2 linked regions of the Homo sapiens genome follow. The protein of the gene in region 2 purifies or fractionates together with the protein of the main gene of each other region. This does not show direct contact. Each region holds a gene or a part of one and is shown on either strand. Other genes may lie near its edges.

Region 1 (3,972 bases), on a different chromosome or scaffold from region 2:
AGGCTCCAGTGATCCTCCCATCTCAGCCCCTATTTGTAAATTTTTTGTAGAGATGGGGTCTCACTATGTTGCCCAGGCTAGTGTTGAACAGCCTGTTGAACAGCTAGTGTTGAACAGAGGTATCTTTTTTTTTTTTTTTTTTTTTTTTTTGAGACAGAGTCTTGCTCTCTGGCCTAGGCTGGAGTGCAGTGGTACAATCTTGGCTCACTGCAACCTCTGACTCCTGGGTTCAAGCAATTCTCCTTGCTTCAGCCTCCTGAATAGCTGGGATTACAGGCATGTGCCACCATGCCCAACTAATGTTTGTATTTTTAGTAGAGATGGGGTTTCCCCATCATGGCCAGGCTGGTCTCAAACTCCTGGCCTCAAGTGATCCACCCACCTCAGCTCCCAAAGTGCTGGGATTACAGGTATGAGCCATCACGCCTGGCCTGATGTATCTTCTTTGGTCACTTTTTCCTCCTCCTTTCACTCTAGTCATAACATGGCACGGAAGTACATGCAGTTTAGACATTTGTTGCACTCAATGAACAAATCTTTGTTGTTTATTTTAAAATTCAAGACAATTTTTTTGCAAATGCTGATTCAAAACGTACCAATCCCCATCTATCATGCCTATGCCAATACAATCTGTCACAAAAAAGTTTGCTTCTCATTGTCACATAGCTATGGGGACTGGTGGCCTTCTAAAATCACTGTCCAGCTGCTGCAAGTGTGAGGCCAGCAACCCACGGCAGGGATGCAGGAGGGAAGCCATGGCTAAGCTGTGGGCCTGGACAAAGGCCACAGATGGGGTTGAAAGGTGAGAAGCGGTAAGCTAGAGGAGACAGACGGCGTTGCCATTAAAAACAATTCAACTTCATTTTAATGTTGCTATGTAAGTTCACAATAAAATCCCTGGAAGTTCAAATTGGAAAGAGCAGTTTGGGGTCATGGGCTCAACAATATAAAGGCAGATTCAGTGAGGGGTAAGGGTAGTGGCTCTGGGGGCAGACTGACCTAGATTTGAATGCCAGTTGTACCAGACTCAAGACACCTTGGGTAAGTGGTTTTATGAAGTACCTCAGTTCTTCATCAGTAGAAAGAGTGCTAACACCTCCATAAGACTTTTGTATGGATTGAGTAAGATAATGCATGTTAAACCACTTGTATAGTTTCTGGCTAACTGTAAACAAGATGTTCTAGAAGTTCTAGTTATCTTTTTTTTTTTTTTTTTTTTTTTTTTTTTAAGAGTCAGGTTCTCACTGTGCCACCAAGGTTGTAGTGCCGTGGTGTAATCATGGCTCATTGCAGCCTTGAACTTCTGGGCTCAAGTGATCCTCCCACCTCAACCTCCTGAGTAGCTGGGAATACAGGCATGCACCACCATGCCTAATTTTTTAGAGATGGGGTCTTGCTATATTGCCCAGTCTGGCCTCAAGTAATCCTCCTGCCTCAGCTTTCTGAATTGCTGGGATTATCGGCATGAGCCACTGTGCCCAGCTAAGCTGTGACTTTTGAGGCAACCCCTTCCCTTCCACAGAGTTTAGTTTCCTCATTTGTAAAATGAGGACAAACCTAGATATTTTTGGAAGTTTCTTCCAGTTCTAATTGCCTATGATCAGATCACATCTGTTGCAGAGCTTCCTAAAAAGCCTGGAAAAATGCAACTCTGCCCCCTGGTGGTTTGCAGCTCTCTATTCAAGATGCTATAAATCCCTCATTGGCTTCAAGACCTCCCTACCATTTTGGTTGCTGTACACTGAAGCCTCACTGGATTGCATGGTGGCTTCCCCAAATTCCGTATGCCTTAGGATATGATGCTTGGCACACAGTTTTCCTTTAGTGCTCCTTTTAATAATTTTATTAGTATGGCCACAAGTTTGATGTCTACAGTACATGTTAACATAGCTGAGTACAAATATTTGAAATAAGTGTGGCAAGTTTTAAAATGTCAACTCTGAGTTATCATGCATGTCCCATGCATTTACATCTGCATCTGCAAACTGTACAATTCAATCTGTGCTTATCCTCACTGGGTCTCCCTGTGTGCCTCAGCTAGGGCAGGGCAGGGGCTCTTGTGCGTTTTTTCAGACCCAGATTTTCAAGAGCAACAGTGTTGAACTCTGGCATGCCATGGTGCATGGTGGCAACACCGGGTTTAGCTTTGGTTCAGGTAAAAATGCAGTGACCAACTATTGCATTTGTGTGAGTCACCTGATTCCCCAGGGCCTGGGCTAGCACAAAGGGTATTTTGATATCCCTGTATGAGGCCCCTGGCAGTTTCTGAACCCGTTTCGTCCCACCGTGAAAGTCTAGAAGTGAGGTTCGCAGTCTTCTACCATGCTGTCAGTGATATAGCTGGAACCAAGATGGGATTCGTAGTAACTCTTTTCATCAAAGGTATTAACAGTCCAACCAACAACCTGGATTCCTTTAGCTGACCACTTCTTCAAGTAGGCCCTGGGGAAAGAGGAAAGCCAATCCTGTTAGAATAATAAGCAGCTGTCTCAGGAATCCATAATGGCCACTAAGTATGGTGTTCACTGCATACCAATGGTGCCCAGAGAATGCCTCCTAACTGGCCTCTGCACTGTGATCAGAGGGACTGTTCCAAAACCCAGGATGCCATGAACCTCCTCTACACTGTCCCAGCTTAAAACATTTCAGTAGCTCACTAATGATCGCCACCCCCAAATGTCCTTGGCACAGCCACTGAAGGTGTGCCTGACCTGGCCCCGACCTGTCTCCTTGGCTTCATCTCACACCACATTCCCCCTTTCTTTTCTGTGCTGATTAATTTTAAATTAATTGAAAGAATATTAATTTTCTTTCACTTCCTGGAAAGAACCATGTTCCTTCCTGCCAGAGCACATTACATGTATTTTTCTCTCTGATCTGGATTCCTCCCAATTCCCACTCACCCTTCAGATCTTAGCTTAACTGTCACTTCCTTGGGGATGCTGTTTCTGACAACCCAGACCAGATTAGATTATAGCCCATGCACAGTTTTCTCTGACATAGCCTGTATCTTAGTTTTAACTTTATATTGATTGGATTTTTATTTGATTAGCATCTCTCACTCTCCCACTTGGCTATAAACGTCACGAGGGCAGAGATCATGGCTTTGATTCTTTACCCACTGCATCTTCAGCTTCTCAACATGGAACCTTGCAATAGTATAGGCACTTACCAAATATTTATTGAACTGAATCATGTATGTCTGAAATAATACTAGACCTACAACTCTAATTAGCTGAAATATACAGATACAGAATTGCCAAAGAAATGATTCCGAGATCGCTAGCAGGTTAGGAAATGGAAATTTTATGGGGAGAGGTGGGGGAGTGCCTATAACATAAGACGGTAGTGGGGAGGCTGGTGCCCACAGGATGTCTTCACTGTGGTTCTGCCCAGGATCCTGTGTTGGCTTTCAAAAAAACCAGTCACAGAAATAAAATCCCTTGCTCAGCATAGTGTCACAGGTTCATTTTTTTTCTTCAAAATACACTAAAAAACCGAAAATATGTGATCGACTCGGTCTGAAAACAGTGAAATATGCCTGAACTCTTCCCACCTAAGAAGCGAAATTGGTAATCCAATTTAGAGGTATGGTAAGCTTTGCAGGTCAGAACCAATTCAGGTTGTCTACTCTGTTAATCCTTCCTTTCAAATAAGAGCATTCAGGATGTCTGTCTGGGTAAAATAAAAAACCTTCCAACTTACGGGGATACAAAATCCTTTTGCATGAGGAAAGCTGAAATTCCACACAGGTACCACAAGATATTATGCATGCTCCAATCGAGCAAAATGTCCATCATAACAAATATAAAATGTTTCCAGAAAGTATCATAGCGTGGTTTCCCATCTCCTGTATGGCTTAGGCTCCAAGGTCTGTGAGTTAATGCTGTTATTACATCCCGATCTGTTTGTCTCATCTGCAAAGGAATTTGGGGAAGTAAAATAATGATCATATGTAAAGTTGAATACTTA
Region 2 (7,022 bases):
TACTTGGCCCTCAGTCACCAACCCAGGTTAATCTACCCTTCACTTCCATCAGTAAACCTAAAGTATAAGGATCATGAAAGCTTTCCAAAGTGCCCAAATCAGTGAACACGACTCATGATATGTAACTAACTCATATCTCATCTAGCTTATATCTCCGTCATGGACATTGTTGGTTGCATATCCAGTCTCTATTCTCCCTCTTCCTTCCTAAAAGAACTCCATTGTGTTCATGAATGCATTCCTCTCCCCTGTGATTAAGTGACGCCACCCTGGGTTGATCCTGTTTAGTCTAAGCCAATCAGATCATGGCATTCCTCTGACAACTGTTACAGGGTCAGACAACTGACCTAAGTTGGTCCAATCAGACTGAAGGACCAAGTGTGGGAGTTTTTTCTCTCTCCTCCTCCTCTTGCTCTAGAGAATGAGAAAGTGTGTATGTTACTAGTAGTCATCTTGCAACCCTAAAGGAAACCAACCTGACTGTGGAAACCCAAGAAGAGATGGGTCCTTGATGACACTGGTTTTTTTTTTTTTTTTTTTTTTGGGACGGAGTCTCGCTGTCTCCCAGGCTGGAGTTCAGTGGTGCGATCTCAGCTCACTGCAACCTCCGCCTCCCGGGTTCTTGCCATTCTCCTGCCTCAGCCTCCCGAGTAGCTGAGACTACAGGCACCCGCCAACACACCCGGCTAATTTTTTGTATTTTTAGTAGAGACAGGGTTTCACCATGTTAGCCAGGATGGTCTCGATCTCCTGACCTCGTGATCCGCCCGCCTCGGCCTCCCGAAGTGCTGGGATTACAGGCGTGAGCCACCGTGCCTGGCCTGACACTGTTGACCAACTGAATCAGAGCCTGGAATCCATTCTTCCTCTGGACTTTGTGAGAGAATTTTCCTTACTATTTAAGCAGTTGGGTTTTCCCAGCTGAAAGCATCCTAACATAGCCATTTCTCCTTGAAACTTTTCTCCCTCGATTTTCTAAACATCACTCTTTTCTGCTCCTACTTCTGCTTCTCAAGTCTGGCCTCCCCCTTTCCTCTGCCTACTCCTACATTTTGGTGTCCTCCAAGGTTTGTTGTGATCTTTTCTACCCAAAGTACATGTTCACCTGAAATAATCTCAGTTCAGTCGGGCGCGGTGGGTCACACCTGTAATCCCAGCACTTTGGGAGGCCAAGGCGGGCGAATCACGAGGTCAGGAGTTCGAGACCAGCCTGGCCAACACATGGTGAAACTCCGTCTTTATTAAAAATACAAAAAAATTAGCCAGGCGTGGTGGCGGGCGCCTGTAATCCTAGCTACTCAGAGGCTGAGGCAGGAGAATCACTTGAACCCAGGAGGCGGAGGCTGCAGTGAGCCAAGATCGCACCACTGCACTCCAGCCCGGACAACAGGGCCAGACTCTGTCTGAAAAAAATAATAATGATAACAATAATAATAATAATAATAATCTCAGCTCACTATGTCTTTCCCTTGACACATCAAAACTGAGCTTCCAGCACTTCCCCCAATGGAATACCACTGATGTTCCCCACCCCTTTTACCTGAAGAACTCCTACCTGTCTCAAAACTAAATTTAAGTGTCCCGTCTGTGAAGCCTTCTCTGAAGTCCCCAGGGGTTCCTTACCTTTTTTTCTGCCGTGGACCTCTTTGGCCGTCAGTGAGTCCTATAGACTCCTTCTCAAAATAATGCTTCTAATTGCATACAAAAAAGTCCCAACTATATTGAAATAATCTTATTTTTTAAACTCAAATATCTGATATAAGCAGTATGTGCTTCTTTACTAGCCCACTAAACAAAAAGATCTAGCAGTGAGTCTTATAACTACCATAGTTCTGAAGTAGTAATGAGCATAAGTGATATTTTGACATCTGCAACAACTGTAATGTAATATGAAAATGTCTGTGACTTGTGCTGGTACTGTGACTTCTACTGGTAACAGGTACTGCTAATACTACTGTGATTTGTTACAGTAGGAACTTGTAAAATGAATGGCCCCCAGCGAAGTGCACCAACTCATATCTATGACCTTGTGTGGTTCCCCACCATATCAACTCTGGACTTGGCTACGTGACTTGTTTTGACATCAGCAAACATGATGCTGTGTTTGTGCCTTGGGACTTGCCCTCTTGGAAGTCAGTAACCAAGTGAGGAAGTCCAACCTAGGCACATGGAGGGGCACCAAGCCCCCAGACATGGGAGTGAAGCCAACTTTCAGTCAAGTCACCAGCAGAACTGCCCAGCCAACCCAGATTTTGAGAAACAATTCTTGTTTTAAGGCACTGGTTTGCAGTGATTTGTTACCCAACAATAGATAACTGAGACATTACCCATATGCGTAACTAAAGGAAGTGCTCAATTCCAATTGGAGATTGCTAAAAATAGTTATGTTTTTTCCCCATCAAAGTTCAGGGATCCTCTGAAATCTATGTGCAGATCCTTTGAGGAGCTGAGGGCCCCAGGTTAGGAACCCCTGGTTAAGCCAAGTGGATCCTGCTCTCCTTTTTACTACTTTACTACACTGTTGGTACACATATAGTTAAACTGGCCACAGCATATCTTTCCTTGTTGTAACCCTGAAATGGAGCTGAGCTCCTAGCACATAACAGGTGTTTAACACACAAATTTATCAAATGAATGTTGATTATAGGATCTGTCTTCCTGACTAAACTGTGAGCTGCCTGAAAACAGAGTAAGAGCAAATACTAGGCCTTTTCCAAGTGCTTTACACATACCAACTTACTCCTTATAACAACCCTATGAGGTAGATGTTATTACCCCAACTTCACCAAAGGAAGATAGGCACAGTGACTTGCCCAAGGTCACACAGCTAGAAAGTGGCAATGCCAGGACTAGAAGGCAGAATGCATGTTCTGATTTTACAGCCTTTATTAACGTACCCAAAGCACATTGCAGAGCTCAATAAAACTTTTAAATGAATAGTACAATTCTGAGATTTCATTAGCACTATTTTATGGGTACTATGCTTCTTGAAGACTCAATTTTGTAGATTAATTTCTGGTAGCCTGTGATTTTTTATGACAAAATACATATAATTTACTTTTTAAAAAGTAGAATAATGGCTTTATGCTAAAGTGCAGATTTTCGAAATTAAGTCTTCATCGTAAAAGTCGATTTTTTTCCAAAGGACACGAGTTCACAAAACGCAGGGAAGGGGGTCCACTGGCCCGTATTAAATAATGTTCCCTGAGGAGTGGAGCAAAGCTCCAGCTTCCCTCGTCACCCAGCCATCCCACCCCAGCCTCCCCCATACCCTGCACAGCTTCTCCTAAAATGACCCTCCCCCATCCACACATCAGGTTCTGAAACCTGACCCTGCCAGGCAACTAAAGCCGCGAACCCCACAGTGCCCTGAGCTGGCCTCACCCTACCCACGATCCCAAGAGGGTACTAGCCGAGGGGATGGGTACTTTGGGGGAAGGCACTTTAAATTTTCAAAGTGTTTAATTCACGAAAGCACAACCCAAAGGGCCGCCCCCACCCACCCGGGGGTCTCCCGCCTCCGCCCGGCAGCCGCTCATCCCCAGTAGACCAGTGAATGAACCGCGGGGCCGGGACGCAGCCGGCCCAGTGGCGGGAAAAGCCTCGGGGTGAGCCAGGCCTGGCTGCAGAGAGGCCCCAAGAGAGCGCGGGGAGGGCTCGGGCGGCCGGGAGGGGGCGGTGACAGCTGTGACTCGACTCCACGCTCTCACCTTGAACATGTCGCTGGCAGCGGAGGCTCCGGCAGGGTCACCCCGGCCTCGGCCACGCCCACTATAGAGAGGTGACTACGGAGGCCCGGTAGGGCCTTGATTTCTCCAACCGCAAGCAGGCAGCGGTGCGGGTGACGGCCGTACTGCAAACTCGGTGCGGCGAAGGTTTAGTTCAATCACCCGGTTCTAGAAGCCGCGTCGCTGAGCCGCAGCGCGTCGCGCCCGGGCAGCGGGTGAACGCAAACCCCGCCCTCCAGGAGGCTCCGCCCCTGCGCCGGCGGTTGCTAGGCGGCAAGAAAGCGCCGGCTCTGTGTGGACGGTACGCGGAGGCGCGAGGAGGGAGGCGCCTGGCGTTGCCGCGGCGCTGGGAAACTGTCTTTGCAGCGGCGACTGGGCGCCCAGCGGCGTGTACTGGGATTTCTGTGAGCAGAGGCTGCCGAGAGGGGGCGCTTGGAGGGCCACCGGCGGCTTCGAAAGCTTCGCAGCCGGAAGCCGCCGGTTGGCGGCCTGGATTTACCTTACGAAAGGTTTTAACCAAGGACTTGAGGTTTCTCAGGTTTTAAATTTAAACTAATATGCTGTGTCCTTTAATCGGAAAAGGCTCTGACCTTATTTTTTCCCGTTAAGAAACAAGCGGTAAGCCTCCTCTCTGGAAATCAAATGTTTGTCCCTTAATACTTGTAGAAGTAACTGATAATGGCAATAATTATCTTATTAACAAGAGTAAACAAGCACTGATACAGCACTTTGATATGCGCAGCCCTGATCTAAGTTCTTTATTCACATTCATCTAATCTTTCCAACAACGGAAGTAGGTGGGCATGATTATTATTCCCAATACATAGATGAAGAAACTGAGGCACGTAGAAGTAATTTGTACAAGACCACATAGGAAGTGGGAAGCTAGGATCCAAACCCATTAGTCTGCCTTTGAAACCTGTGTTCTAGCCAAAACAATTGTTGCACTGTCTCATAATGAGGATGTATTTCCTATTTCATTCTGTATTTCTGCCCTAATCCTATAAAAAGTGTAAGCCCCATCCAGGCGAGCATCTGGAAAAATTTAGAATTTGTACAGTGACGTGCCACTGCCCTCCAGCCAAAGACCACTAGGGGCACACCTGTAGTTGAAGAAATTGGGTTTCTCATTGCTGCAAGGAGAACGCACACGTAGGAACACAGTGACATATTTCAGTAAAAGAGTTAGATTTATTATAGGATTTGGGCTTTGGTTCGGTGATTTTGGGGCGAGTTCAAGGAAGCAGGAGCTTTGCTCTGGATCGGGTGTTGTTAGGAAGCAGTGGTAACACCAAGGCCCAGCTGTGACTGCCAGCCTTGGTGTTAGTTAAGCCCAGCTTAGCTCCCAGATGTTAAGGGCTGCTTTTCTCTTTCTTAAGAGGATTGTATATTCCAAGGCATCCCCAAGGAGAAATACTGAATAGACTCAGAAGGCTCTCTGCATCAGCAGTGTAACGTCACACATACATAAAAATGTGAAACATATTGATAAATTAGGGCAGAAGTTCTTAATTCAGGGGGTATGTGAACTTGTATGGGGGAAAAAATGACAACTTCATTTTCACTAACCTCTAACTGAACTTTGTTTCTTTCAATTATAGTGTAGATAACAAGCCACAGTAGTATTAACATTGATGACTTTGTCATCAATGGAAAGCACAGATATTTTCATGTTACATTGCAGTCATGTCAGGGATCTTGAAATATTTATGCTCGTTACTACAAAAATACAGTAGTTATTAGAGCTCATTTAATGCATTAAGAAGACACATTTACTATAATTTTGTTTTAAAAAATATTTTGATGATTTCAATATAATTGGAGCACCTTGTAATCCTATGTATTTTATGTTATGCGTTTTAAAACCAATTCTTAGAAGAGATCTGTCCATAGGGGTCCATGGCACCAAAAGAAATGATAAAGAGCCCCTGGTTTAGTAACAGAGACCAAGCAGTGAGTAAGAATTTGGGAGCTGCATCCAAATTGGAGCATTACTGCATCCAAACTCGTTGCTTTAAAGAATAGAAAGTTGGAGGTGGAATCAGAAATTTAGTGTATACCCTCTCACTTTACCAAGGAGGGAACTGAACCACTGAGAGGTTAAGTGACTTGCCCAAAGTCTCACTGCTATTTGGTGATAAAACTGGGACAAAACGTTTTTAGACAAACATGTAAAAACTCTCCACTGTGCTAGGCACTGAGGACTCTGTAGTTAACAAGATGCCTCCTGCCCTCAATGAGCTTGTTGGTAGACAGCTGGAGAGTGAGGAGATTGAATTATTGAGTTAAAAAGTTAACTCCAGGTGTAGTGTGGAAGATGAATAAGAGGAGAAAAAGACTGGAGACAGACCAGTTAGAAGGCTATGGATAGATTTACTTGTCTTTTCCATATACCATATAATATTTTTAGTACACAAAGAATGTAAACTGTAAGCAACTTTAAGAGATCCACAATGCCTTCCTTTTTAAAGGATTCAGAATTAGTACAACAATCATATGGCACTTGAGTCTTGTCCAAACAGTGTAATAGTATAAATTATGACCTCAAAGGGTTAATTTATGTACTTTCAGATTACTTCATTGGAGGGAAAATGAATCGTTCCTCAAATGTACCACGTAAAGGTATTCTGAAATCAGGTACAAGATCCTTACAAAAAGTTCGCAGAGTACATTTCGCAAATGCACGAAATGCAAGATCATTACTATCGTAAGTACCTGTGTTTTGCCTTGTGTTATCTTCCACAACTGTACAGTTTCCAAACAGTACTTATTCAGATAACTTCAAATGCTTCTTGTTTTGTAAATCAAAGTTTTTGTGTTTTAAAATTACTTTCAAATTGAGTAATTATAATTGCATTTTCTAATTTACAAAGCATATTAACACACATCTACTTGATCCTGATACAACCTTGTGAAACAATTTTTACATTTTATAAATGAAGTAGTAGCAACCGGGAGAAGGTAAGTGGCTTGCAGAAAGTTATCAGCTAATAAATGGCATCAGATAGGATTCAAAGGTTTGTTTCCACACTTCAGGCTTTTTCCTTTCTTTTTTTTTTTTTTTTTTTTTTTCAGACAGAGTCTCACTCTGCCACCCAGGCTGGAGTGCAGTGGTGCGATCTCGGCTCACTGCAACCTCTGTCTCCTGGGTTCAAGCGATTCTCCTGCCTCAGCCTTCCGAGTAGCTGGGATTACAGGCATGCACCACCACGCCTGGCTAATTTTTATATTTTCAGTAGAGACGGGGTTTCACCATATTGGCCAGGCTGGTCTCGATCTCCTGGCCTCAGGTGA

What was found. The genes of interacting proteins can lie anywhere in the genome.
Region 1: the proteins of CXorf58 (region 2) and GDE1 purify together in Homo sapiens (affinity purification with mass spectrometry; 3 studies listed by BioGRID and IntAct, with this or other methods). This does not show direct contact.

Annotation. Positions count from the first base shown.
Region 1 is NC_000016.10:19,501,176-19,505,147, forward strand, and holds the end of GDE1 (glycerophosphodiester phosphodiesterase 1), read right to left. Parts: intron 3,918-3,972; coding exon 3,706-3,917; intron 2,443-3,705; coding exon 2,295-2,442; 3' UTR 518-2,294; downstream 1-517. UniProt on the Homo sapiens protein: Hydrolyzes the phosphodiester bond of glycerophosphodiesters such as glycerophosphoinositol (GroPIns) and glycerophosphoethanolamine (GroPEth), to yield a glycerol phosphate and an alcohol.
Region 2 is NC_000023.11:23,903,984-23,911,005, forward strand, and holds the start of CXorf58 (uncharacterized protein CXorf58), read left to right. Parts: upstream 1-4,022; 5' UTR 4,023-4,346; intron 4,347-6,299; 5' UTR 6,300-6,319; coding exon 6,320-6,435; intron 6,436-7,022.